2 separate regions of the Homo sapiens genome follow, and region 2 is linked to region 1. Evidence: fine-mapped expression QTL. A gene starts in region 1. The other region holds a variant in brackets. All regions are shown on one strand. Distances are from middle to middle. Region 1 holds the start of FRS3 (fibroblast growth factor receptor substrate 3). Region 2 overlaps USP49 (ubiquitin specific peptidase 49).

Evidence for each region. PIP is the estimated chance that this variant, and not a neighbour inherited with it, causes the effect.
Region 2: its variant is the best candidate, but not a certain one, in a credible set for the expression of FRS3 in blood mononuclear cells (TOPMed, PIP 0.73).

The regions. Positions count from the first base shown.
Region 1 is chr6:41,776,912-41,782,284 of GRCh38, reverse strand. FRS3 (fibroblast growth factor receptor substrate 3) reads left to right here and starts at 2,385. Exons shown (of 7, transcript NM_006653.5): 1 at 2,385-2,469; 2 at 4,109-4,252; 3 at 5,275-5,363. The coding sequence starts at 5,298. PRICKLE4 (prickle planar cell polarity protein 4) reads right to left here and starts at 1,503. Exons shown (of 8, transcript NM_013397.6): 1 at 1,459-1,503; 2 at 765-935. RefSeq lists silencers at 1,720-1,789, 2,070-2,479, 2,510-2,659.
Region 2 is chr6:41,807,032-41,812,404 of GRCh38, reverse strand. All of the region lies in intron 3 of USP49 (ubiquitin specific peptidase 49), which reads left to right. Among named protein-coding and RNA genes, the nearest start is that of TOMM6, 22 kb to the right of the region's middle. The variant T/C (reference allele first, on the strand shown) is at 2,463.

The DNA of each region.
Region 1 (5,373 bases):
TCCTGGCCAACATGGGGAAACCCCATCTCTACTACAAATACAAAAATAAGCTGGGCGTGGTAATGTGTGCCTGTAATCCCAGCTACTCCAGAGGCTGAGGCAGGAGAATCGCTCCAACCTACCTGGAAGGCAGAGGTGGCAGTGAGCTGAGATCATGCCACTGCACTCCAGCCTGGGCAACAGAGTGAGACTCCGTCTCAAAAAAAAAAAAAAAAAAGCGACTATTAATGTAGAGAAGAGATGAGCCCCGCCCTCAAGGAGCTCATAGTGGGTAAGACAAAGATGAAACCAGGTAGAATGGGATCAATCAGAGCTCGGGACAGACATACAAAAACCCTGGAGAAAAAAATAACCAGAGCAAACTTTTTAATAATATTTACTCTGTGCCAAGGACTCTTCTAGAATATTACATAATATAGTCCATCCTCACAATAATCTTATGAGGTAATCTCTTTCATTCCACTTGACAGTTGAAACAAGTTAATTAACTTGCCCAAGATCATACCAGAGGCTAAGGGAAGCCTTAGGGGGACCTGGCTTCTGAGAGCTGGGATAGATTCTGAAAGTAGCTGGGCACAGGAGGGTCATCATCAAATCCCTGGCCTCTAAGACTGGGCCAGGGATTCGTACTGGGGTTGAGGTGAGGGTTTGGACTGTAACAGTTAATATTGCTTCCCAGCACTGAACCCTCCTCAGCACCGCCCCTCCACTCCCACTTCAAATGTCCTGTGCCACCCTTCCCTCCTTCCTGGCTTCACACCCACCTGCTTCCTTCCTCTTCTGTCCTTCAGGTCAGGTTTCCTGTGGAAGGTGGCCAGGATGGGCTGTTCACACCAGGAGTAGCCACTAACAGCACTGCCCCTGCTCCAGGCAGCAAGAAAGGAGGGGGCGTCTGGGGCCCCAGGAGGGGACTTGCACCCTCTTCCATTTTGGCTCTAGTTTGCATAGAATTGTCCAACACAGAAACAACACTCAGAAATCAGGCCTCTATTCCTCACCCTTCCAATCTCCCCAAAGGCAGCCAAACTCCACCTCCACCTAGCACTGGAACACCCTTACTAACAGGCCAGCTGGATTCCTTCCATAATTCCCTTCCCCCTCCCACCTCAGATAAGGGACAGAGCTGAACCCCTTGTCTTGCCTCCGTGCAGAGCCTCCGTGCAAGAGGGCTCAGGAGCTGGACATCCCCAACACCCGCTGCCCTGAAGGGCAGAGCCCGAGAGGACTTAGGGCTTGGGGAGGTGGAGGGATGGGAAGATTTCTGGGGACAGTGGGAGGGAGAAGGAAGGGGAGTGCCCAGTCCCGCCAACTGCCCTCTCGATAGATCCCCAGAGTTTTTCTGGAACTTGGCGGGCCCGCCTCCGGGGCTGGGACGCGGTGTTTCCCGAGTCCGCTGGGGTTCCCGGTCTGGCTGCTGGGATTTTAGGGGAGGGGACCAGGACTCCGCTGGGGTCTCACCCTCGCTGTGCGTCGCTGTCCGGGCAGTTCTGGACCGACTCTGCCGTCAGGCCCCTCACCCGGTCCCCACCCCAAGGCTTCAGCGCCCGCCCCCGTCCGCCCCCGCCCGCCCTAATAGCGCGGCCCTTCCTCTCCCACGCCCCAGCGGCCCCCGCCCGCCCCTCCCCGGCTGGTGGAGAGGGGCGGCTCAGGGAGGGGCCTGGAGCTGCAGATTGGGGGGAGGAAAAAAAAAAGGAAAACAAAACCACATTTATGGGATCTCAGGGTGGAAATGTGCGGGCTCCATGGCCTCTGCCATGCAGGTGCAAGGGCTCTCTGGCTCGGACTGCGCCCGGCAGGCATCCAGCAGACGCCGGGAGCCGCGTTTACGCTGGGTTTTCAACCATTCGCTGAATGGAAACGCCTCGCCGGGCCCGCAGCCCTGTCTCTCCGCAGTTCCCAGGTCTCCCCAAACTCTCCCTGTGGTCTCCCAGCCCCGCTCCTCCGCGTGTTTCCCTTCAGTTCTCTCCCCCTTGTCCCCAGTGGTCCCCCTGGCCCCTTCCCCTCCCCTCAACCCTCTTCCAGGTTCCATCGTCTTGCCCTTCTCCTTTCAGGTCCCTTCAGACCCTCTCCCCTTCCCTTCGTTTCTCGCCCAACCCTCCGTCCCCTTTCCGCTCCCCGGACCACCCCCAACTTTGGTGTCCTCAGCCCCGCCTCCGCGCCCCGCCTCCGCCGCAGGCTCCGCCCTGTCCCCTCCGGGCTTGCTCAGCCCCTGGCCAGGAGCGCCCTCTGGCGTCTGCGCATGCTCACTGCTCCCGACTGCAAAGTCCTCCAAAGGGACCTTCTAGGCTGCGTGCCGGTCGCCCCCGCTCGGGTCCGCCAGCCCGCAGCGTCTCGTTGGTGCTGCCGGTGACCTCCGACCCCGCGGCCGCGGGGCGGGGCGGGGCGGGGAGGCCTTAGCTCCGGGCGGGCGGCGGCTGCTGCAGCGGGACCCGGGAGCGGGGCCCGGCGCCGCCCGGGCCGCGGGGCGATGTGAGTCGGGGCGCGGCGGGGCGGGGACGAGGCGGCTTCACCGAGGCCGCGCCGCGCCGCGCCGCGCCGCGCCGCAGTCTCCACTCCCTCCCTAGGAAGCCCCGGGCGGGCGGGCAGGCGGCGGAGCACCGGGGCTGGGGGCGGGGATCCGGGGACAGCGCGCACCCAGACCTCCTCATTCCTTACGGGCATGTAGAAATTCCCCTTGACAGTCCTGTAGCCTGTCCTGCAGCCTCTGGCTCCCCCAACCCACCTCTACCCTCTCCGCCCTGGACACATCATCGCATCTCCTGGAGCCCTCAGAACCCCCTCATTCACTCAACAAATCTCCTGCTATGCCCACGGACCCACCATTTCTCTTGGATGCCCCCAAATGCTTCCACTGCCCGGAAATTCCTAGGATCCCTCATATCCCCATTCTCCTTGCACTATCCAAAATGCCCACATCCAAAATTCTTGCTCATGTTTCCCCAAACGTCCTCATACGTTTTCAGCCCCCACACCCCCCTCTCACTCCTGCCCCTGATCCATACCTATCCCAGACCAGAGGCCTCTCCCCATTTCCACTCAATGCAGTCCCTCCTCAGTGGGCTATCTGATACATCCTGATATCTTAAGGAGAAGAGATGGTGATAGGGAAATTCAGCCCCTCCCCCATCTTGCACCCTAGAGTTCTTCGTTTCAGTGCCCGCGCCGTGCCCCCGTCGGTGGCTCAAGCCCCAGTATTTTCCCAGCAACCTATCTTTAGTCTGTGCACACCTCCCTGAGCCTGCTTCTTCCTTCCAGAAAATAAGCCAGACCAAGGGGATGGGGTCCTTTTACCTGGAAGTTGTCCAAGGATGCAGGGTGCAAGGGGCCCTGGGAAGTGTTTCTCCAGAGCAGGAATGTGGGATGTCCAGGGTCTGCAGAGTCCTGGCTTGTTGACTTGTCTACCTTGGGCTCAGATATCCTGAAATTTTGGCTTACTGTTAACATTTATGTTAAAATTAGGCCTTTCAGAGCTTGGGGAGCAGAAAATCTATCAAGCTTCCAAATGCGAAATTGAAGCAGCCTGTCTTGGAAGATGAACATGTCAATTTTAGTGAAGTTTGTCTTACGTTTTTACCTCTGCAAGTTATTTAAGCTAGAAGCTCCCCAGTTTATAGATGGTTCCCCCAAAAACTAAGGCCTTAGGTGGGAGTTGGGGGGGGCGTTGACTTAAGTCTCCCAGATACTTAGTAGCAACAAAACTGACCGATATATTGGTTTCCTGAGTCTTAAACCAGTGCTGTCTCTACTATATCACAGTGTCCTTTTGAGAAAGCTCTTTGTAGAGTTAAAGTTCTCTGCAAAGGTAAGGTGATGGTTTTGGTGTTTGTTGTAACAGGACTCAGAGGGAGATCTAAAGTGACTTAAAAGGTCTTTGGTCGTCTTAGACTTCAAACTTATTGATGTTCTTGGTGTCTGTCCCTCTCAGGGCCCGTGGGGCTTGGGATTTGTGCTCCCTTTGCCCTTGATTTTACTTTCTTCATTGGTGTTTTTGTCCCATTAGGGCTGGAACAGATACCCAGGTGGGATGGACTGTTAGGTCAGTTTTCATTAACAGTTGGGGGTGAAGATAGAAGGTTTTGTTAATCAGTGTCTCTGTTTCCTATGCTAGGTGAGCCCCAGGTGTATCCCAGAGGGATCCGGGTGACTTCTCTGCAGACTGTTTGCCATGACAGCCCACCAAGGACGGGGGGAATAAAGTGGGAACCCTTCCCCATGCCCCTCCCACGGTCAGCTCCCCGATGGCCTGGGTGAGGTAAGAGCTGTGTATAGGGGTCAGTTTTATGGCGTTTCCCAAGTTGGGAGGAACAGAGGGTACAGGTCACCTGGTTGTTCAAAGCTTTACCATTCAGCAGGAGTTCTAGAAGGATAGCCAATCCTACAGACTTATTTCTTGTGACAAGTTGCAACCCCTTAAAACTTCTGCTTGGTATTGGTCCATGCATTTCTTGTTCCCTTAGGTCATTCAAGCTTGGGTGGTGTCCTCTTCATTCTAGGCACAGTCCTGACTATTGTGACATATAATCCAAGTACTGGAATCCTGGAGGGGAAGAGCCAAATAGTAAGGCCTCTGGTCTCCCCTTCAGAAAAAGGGAAGGAAACCCAGCATTTTTTTTAAATGAAGAAATATCCACTTGAGGTTATTAAAACTGCACTGTTTTAAATGTTCAGTCTTCTGAATATATCTTTATGATCACAATGTAACAACTCATTTGAAGAGGACATCAGAAAGATAAATTTGCACTGGATGTTGGGATGGTAGTAAGGGAGAAGAGAGAACTTGGATGAAGTGGAATGGATGAGGTAAAAAGGGAGGAAAAAAGAGACAGGCACAGGCCAAAGTGTCTGAGACCCCCAAGTGACAATTTCTTTGCTGAATCCAAATAAGGGGCTCGGGCTGGCACCCACCTCCATCTGCTGCAGATCACTTCTCCTGGACCCCTACTTTTCTTCCTGCCTGTGTCCCTGCCTTCCTTGTCATTACATGGGTCAGAATCCTACATACTTCTCAAGGTCCAGATCAAATGTTACCTCTGAGAAGCTCTCTCCAGCCCCCCATCGGCATTCATCCTTAACACATTGTAACTTGAATTAACGTTTATCCAATGTGTGTCTGGCCCTGGATTGAGAATGTGAAGTCTTTGAGGGGGGGTCTGTATCACACAGTCTCTTGGACAGAGTAGGTGATCACAATGACGTGCTTCTGCCCAAGTTCCCCAGAGCAGGGTTTTTTGAAGCTGAAGTTGGTGACCTGCATATCCTGTATGTTTTTCCTAGGGCAGGCTGGCTGCTCTGACACCATGGGGAGCTGCTGCAGCTGCCTGAACAGAGACAGCGTTCCAGACAACCACCCCACCAAGTTCAAGGTACCCAGAG
Region 2 (5,373 bases), 30 kb before region 1:
AGTTTTAATGTGCAAAAAAATCATCTGGCCGGGCGCAGTGGCTCATGCCTGTAATCCCAGCACTTTGGGAGGCCGAGGTAGGCGGATCACCTGAGGTCGGGAGTTCAAGACCAGCCTGACCAATATGGAGAAACCCCGTCTCTACTAAAAATACAAAATTAGCCGGGCGTGGTGGCGCATGCCTATAATCCCAGCTATTTGTGAGGCTGAGACAGGAGAATCGCTTGAACTCGGGAGGCGGAGATTGTGGTGAGCCTAGATTGCGCCACTGAACTCTAGCCTGGGCAACAAGAGCGAAACTCCGTCTGAAAAAAAAAAAAGAATCATTGAGATTTTAGAAGCCTCTCCAGGTTCAGATTCATCAGGACTGGAGTAGTAACCAGGAAATCTGTATATATAACAAGTAGCCTGGGGAATTCAGATGTTGGTAGGTAGTTCAGGGACTACATTTTCAAAGAATATTGAATTAGTGAGAGTGAGAAACAGGAATTGTCTGCATCTTGATATTTTTCCCTCCCCTTCATTCCTTCATTACTTTCTTTTGTGTCCCAGGAATTAGTTGTAAGCATCAATGTGTACCCAATTTGTACCCTTAGTTGGTACTAAGTAGCAAGAAGAAAATTCATTTATTTACTATTCCATCTTTTAATGTATGTGTGTTTTGATTTGGCTGTGCACTAAGAAAAATCAACAAAAATGGTTATTTCAATACTATTCCAGACTGTGTGAGAGGGTAATTCTGACAGAATACTTTTGACCACTAAGAGTTGAGCACCCACAAGTCTTGGCATTATAAGGGGGTAAAAACAGAAATATACATAATCTCCTCTCTGAAGAAGATTACAGTATTCCCCCCTTATCCTTAGGGGATATGTTTCAAGACCCCCAGTGGATGCCTGAAACCACAGATAGTATCGAACCCTATATATACTATGTTTTTTTCCTGTACATACATACCTATAAAGTTTAGTTTTTAAATGAGGCACAGTAATAATAACATAATACAATAGAACAATTACAACAATATACTGTAATAAAAATTATGTGAATGTGGTCTCTTGGAGTATCTTACTGTACTGCACCACAGGTGACCGAAACCTCAGAAAGTGAAACCATGTATAAAGGGAGGCTACTGTATATCTTGTTAGAAAGTGGGCAAACACATCCAGAAAAATGATGTAAAGGGTGCTTAGCAATGAGAAAATCATGATCTGGCTTGATTGAGAGTAGTCTAGGTCGCTTCCCTTTGTATGATTTGAGGGTTTCTTATATAAAGACATGCCTCTGCCATCTGGAACAGGCAATAAAAAAGGGAAGAATCTCTAATTTGGTCCTGCAGTATATTTATTTATTTGTGGGTTTTGGCACACATAAATAGGACTAGGCCAAAAACGGCATCTGGAAAATTAAAGGGGCTACTCACAGTACATTGGATTTAGAACTTCTCTGGGTTGACCTCATAATCATGAAACTGCATTTGCTCACAGAAATGAAAAGTAGAGAATAAATGGAGGTGAAAGAAATTCACCTTGAAAGAGGAACTACCGGCCGGGCACGGTGGCTCACACCTATAATCCCAGCACTTTGGGAGGCTGAGGCGGGTCACCTGACCTCAGGATCACCTGAGGTCAGGAGTTCAAGACCAGCCTGGCCAACATGGTGAAACCCCATATCTACTAAAAATACAAAAATTAGCTGGGTGTGGTGGCCCTTGCCTGTAATCCCAGCTACTAGGGAGGCTGAGGCAGGAGGATTGCTTGAACCTGGGAGATGGAGGTTGCACTGAGCCAAGATCATGCCAGTGCACTCCAGCCTGGGCAACAGAGTGAGGCTCTGTCTCAAAAAAAAAAAAAAGAGGAACTATCTTTAGGGAATTGAATTATTTATTTATTTTTTATTTATTTTTTATTTTTTGGAGACGAAGTCTCGCTCTTGTCCCCCAGGCTGGAGTGCGATGGCACAATCTTGGCTCACTGCAACTTCCACCTCCAGGTTCAAGCAATTCTTCTGCCTCAGCTTCCCGAATAGCTGGGATTACAGGCGCCTGCCACCACACCTGGCTAATTTTTTTTGTGTTTTTTTTTTTAGTAGAGACGGGGTTTCACCATGTTGGCTAGGCTGGTCTCGAACTCCTGACCTCAGGTGATCCGCCTGCCTCGGTCTCCCAAAATGTTGGGATTACAGGCGTGAGCCACTGCACCCGGCCTATTTTATTATTTTCTTTATTTTTTTATTTTTATTTATTTATTTTTTGAGACGGAGTCTTGCTCTGTCGCCCAGGCTGAAGTGCAGTGGCGCGATCTCGGCTCACTGCAAGCTCCGCCTCCCGGGTTCGCGCCATTCCCCTGCCTCAGCCTCCGGAGCAGCTGGGACTAAAGGCACCCGCCACCGCGCCCGGCTAATTTTTTGTATTTTTTAGTAGAGACAGGGTTTCACCGTGTTAGCCAGGATGGTCTCGATCC[T/C]CTGACCTCGTGATCTGCCCTCCTCGGCCTCCCAAAATGCTGGGATTACAGGCGTGAGCCACCGCGCCCGGCCTATTTTCTTTATTTTTTAATTTTTATTTATCTATTTATTTTTTGAGACGGAGTCTCGCTCTGTCACCCAGGCTGGAGTGCCGTGGCGCAATCTCGGCTCACTGCAAGTTCCACCTCCCGGGTTCACGCCATTCTCCTGCCTCAGCCTCCTGAGTAGGTTGGGACCACAGGCGCCCACCACCACGCCTGGCTAATTTTTTGTATTTTTAGTAGAGTTGGGGTTTCACCGCGTTAGGCAGGATGGTCTCGATCTCCTGACCTTGTGATCCTCCCGCCTCGGACTCCCAAAGTGCTAGGATTACAGGTGTGAGCCACCGTACCCGGCCTATTTTATTATTTTCTTTTTGAGACGGAGTCTTGCTCTGTCCTCCAGGCTGGAATGCAATGGCGCGATCTTGGCTCACTGCAACCTCCACCTCCTAGGTTCTAGCGATTCGCCTGCCTCAGCCTCCTGAGTAGCTGGGATTACAGGCGCCTGCCACCACGTCTGGCTAATTTTTTTATTTTTTTAGTAGAGATGGGGTTTCACCATGTTGGTCAGTCTGGTCTCGAGCTCCTGACCTTAGGTGATCCACCTGCCTCGGCCTCCCAAAGTATTGGGATTACAGGCATGAGCCACCGCACCTGGCCTTTTTTTTTTTTTTAATTTTAAAGAGACTAGGCCAGGTGTGGTGGCTCACACCTATAATCCTAACACTTTGGGAGGCCAAGGCAGGAGGATCACTGTGCCCAGAAGTTTAAGACCAGCCTGGGCAACATAGTGAGATCCCCATATCTACAAAAAATAAAATTAGCTGGGCATAGTGGCATGCACCTATGATCTCATCTACTCTAGAGGCTGAGGTGGGAGGATCACTTGAACCCAGGAAGTGGTGGCTGCAGTGAGCCAAGATCACACCACCGCACTCCAGGCTGGGTGACAGAGAGACCCTCTCTCAAAATATATAAATATATAAGTAAATAGATAGATAGATTAGATAGGACAGGTCTATGTTGGCTAGGCTGGTCTTGAACTCCTGACCTCAATCCTTCCACCTCAGCCTCCCGAAGTGTGCAAGCCACGGTGCCCAGCCTAAGGAATTTTAAGTTCTGGTATTGAGGGGAAAACGCCTTTCAAAGTTCCAAAGATATAAAAGTTTTCTTTTAAAATAGTTGTATAGCAGCCTGGCGTGTTGGCTCACACCTATAATCGCAGCACTTTGGGAGGCTGAGGTGGGCGGATCACGAGGTCAAGAGATCGGGACCATCCTGGTCAACATGGTGAAACCCTGTCTCTACTAAAAATACAAAAAAATTAGCTGGGCGTGGTGGCGCACGCCTTTAGTCCCAGCTACTCGGGAGGCTGAGGCAGGAGAATCGCTTGAACCCGGGAGGTGGAGGTTGCAGTGAGCTGAGACCACGCCACTGTACTCCAGCCTGGTGACAGAGCGAGACTCCATCTCAAAAAAAAAAAAAAAAAAAAAGTTGTATAGCTTCTTTCCCTTGGAGAAATTGCCCACAAGGCTTCTCTGATTATTGAATTGAAGAAGCATTATTGGGAGGGGGAAAAAAAAACATGCTTAGGATGTTCTACTGTTTTAAAAAGCATTTTCATATATATCAGCTGGAAGATTCGTTGCTTTTTTTTCTTTTGTTTCGGTAGTTTGGTTAAATATTATACCAGTAGCCACTTCACCTCTTGTCCTAAGTCAGATTTGTCCAGTTCTTTACTTACCTTTCCTTTCAGTAAAGAAGGTAAAAGTTTTCCCACCCTTACTGCAAGATGCAGATGTTCTTTTCAAAAAGACGGATGTTGGCTGGGCGCAGTGGCTCGTGCCTGTATTCCCAGCACTTTAGGAGGCTGAGGCGGGCAGATCATTTAGGTCAGTAGTTCGAGACCAGCCTGGCCAACATGGTTAAATCTCGTCTCTACTAAAAATACAAAAAAATTAGCCGGGTGTGGTGGTGCGCGCACCTGTAATCCCAGCTTCCTGGGAGGCTGAGGCAGGAGAATCGCTTGAACCAGGGAGGCAGAAGTTGCAGTGAGCTGAGACTGCACCACTACACTCCATCCTGGGTGACAGAGGGAGGCTCGACCTCAAAAAAAAAAATACATAAAAAACAAAAAATAAATTAAAAAACACATATACGGCTGTGCACGGTGGCTCATGCCTGTATTCCCAGCACTTTGGAATGCCGAGGTGGGCAGATCACCTGAGGTCAGGAGTTCGAGACCAACCTGGCCAACATGTTGAAACCCCGTCTCTACTAAAAATACAAAAATTAGCCGGGTGTGGTGGCGTGGCGTCAGTAATCCCAGATACTCGGGAGGCTGAAGTGGGAGAATCGCTTGAGCCCGGGAGGTGGAGGTTGCAATGAGCTGATATCCCGCCACTGCACTCCAGCCTGGGCGACAGAGTGACCCCGTCTCAAAACAAAACCACATATACAATGTTCCTTAGTCACGTCTCATAAAAATGATACTTTGTACTGGTGAGGACTTTCTTTCTCTTATTTCTATCTTATATCATGTTATCTCTGCTTTGAAAAACATTGCAATCGACCTAAAATTGACTTTTTATTTGAGTTTCTTCATCTCTCCCACTGGTATGTGAAACACCATAAAGTTTCAAATTTGTGCTAACCCTTCCGTAAGAGTCTTCCTTTTTAAGTAATTTAACTGTCCTGTAACTCTCTGCCTTTATACCAAATGTGCCTTTTTTTAACTTTCAAAGGAACCAATTTGGAGTTGAAAATGAATGAATCTAGAGTTGAAATATCAATTGCAAGCCTTTTACTTTTTTTTTTTTTTTTAAGGAAAATATTTTTCTAAAAGTGTTTTCTTTTTCTTTTTCTTTTT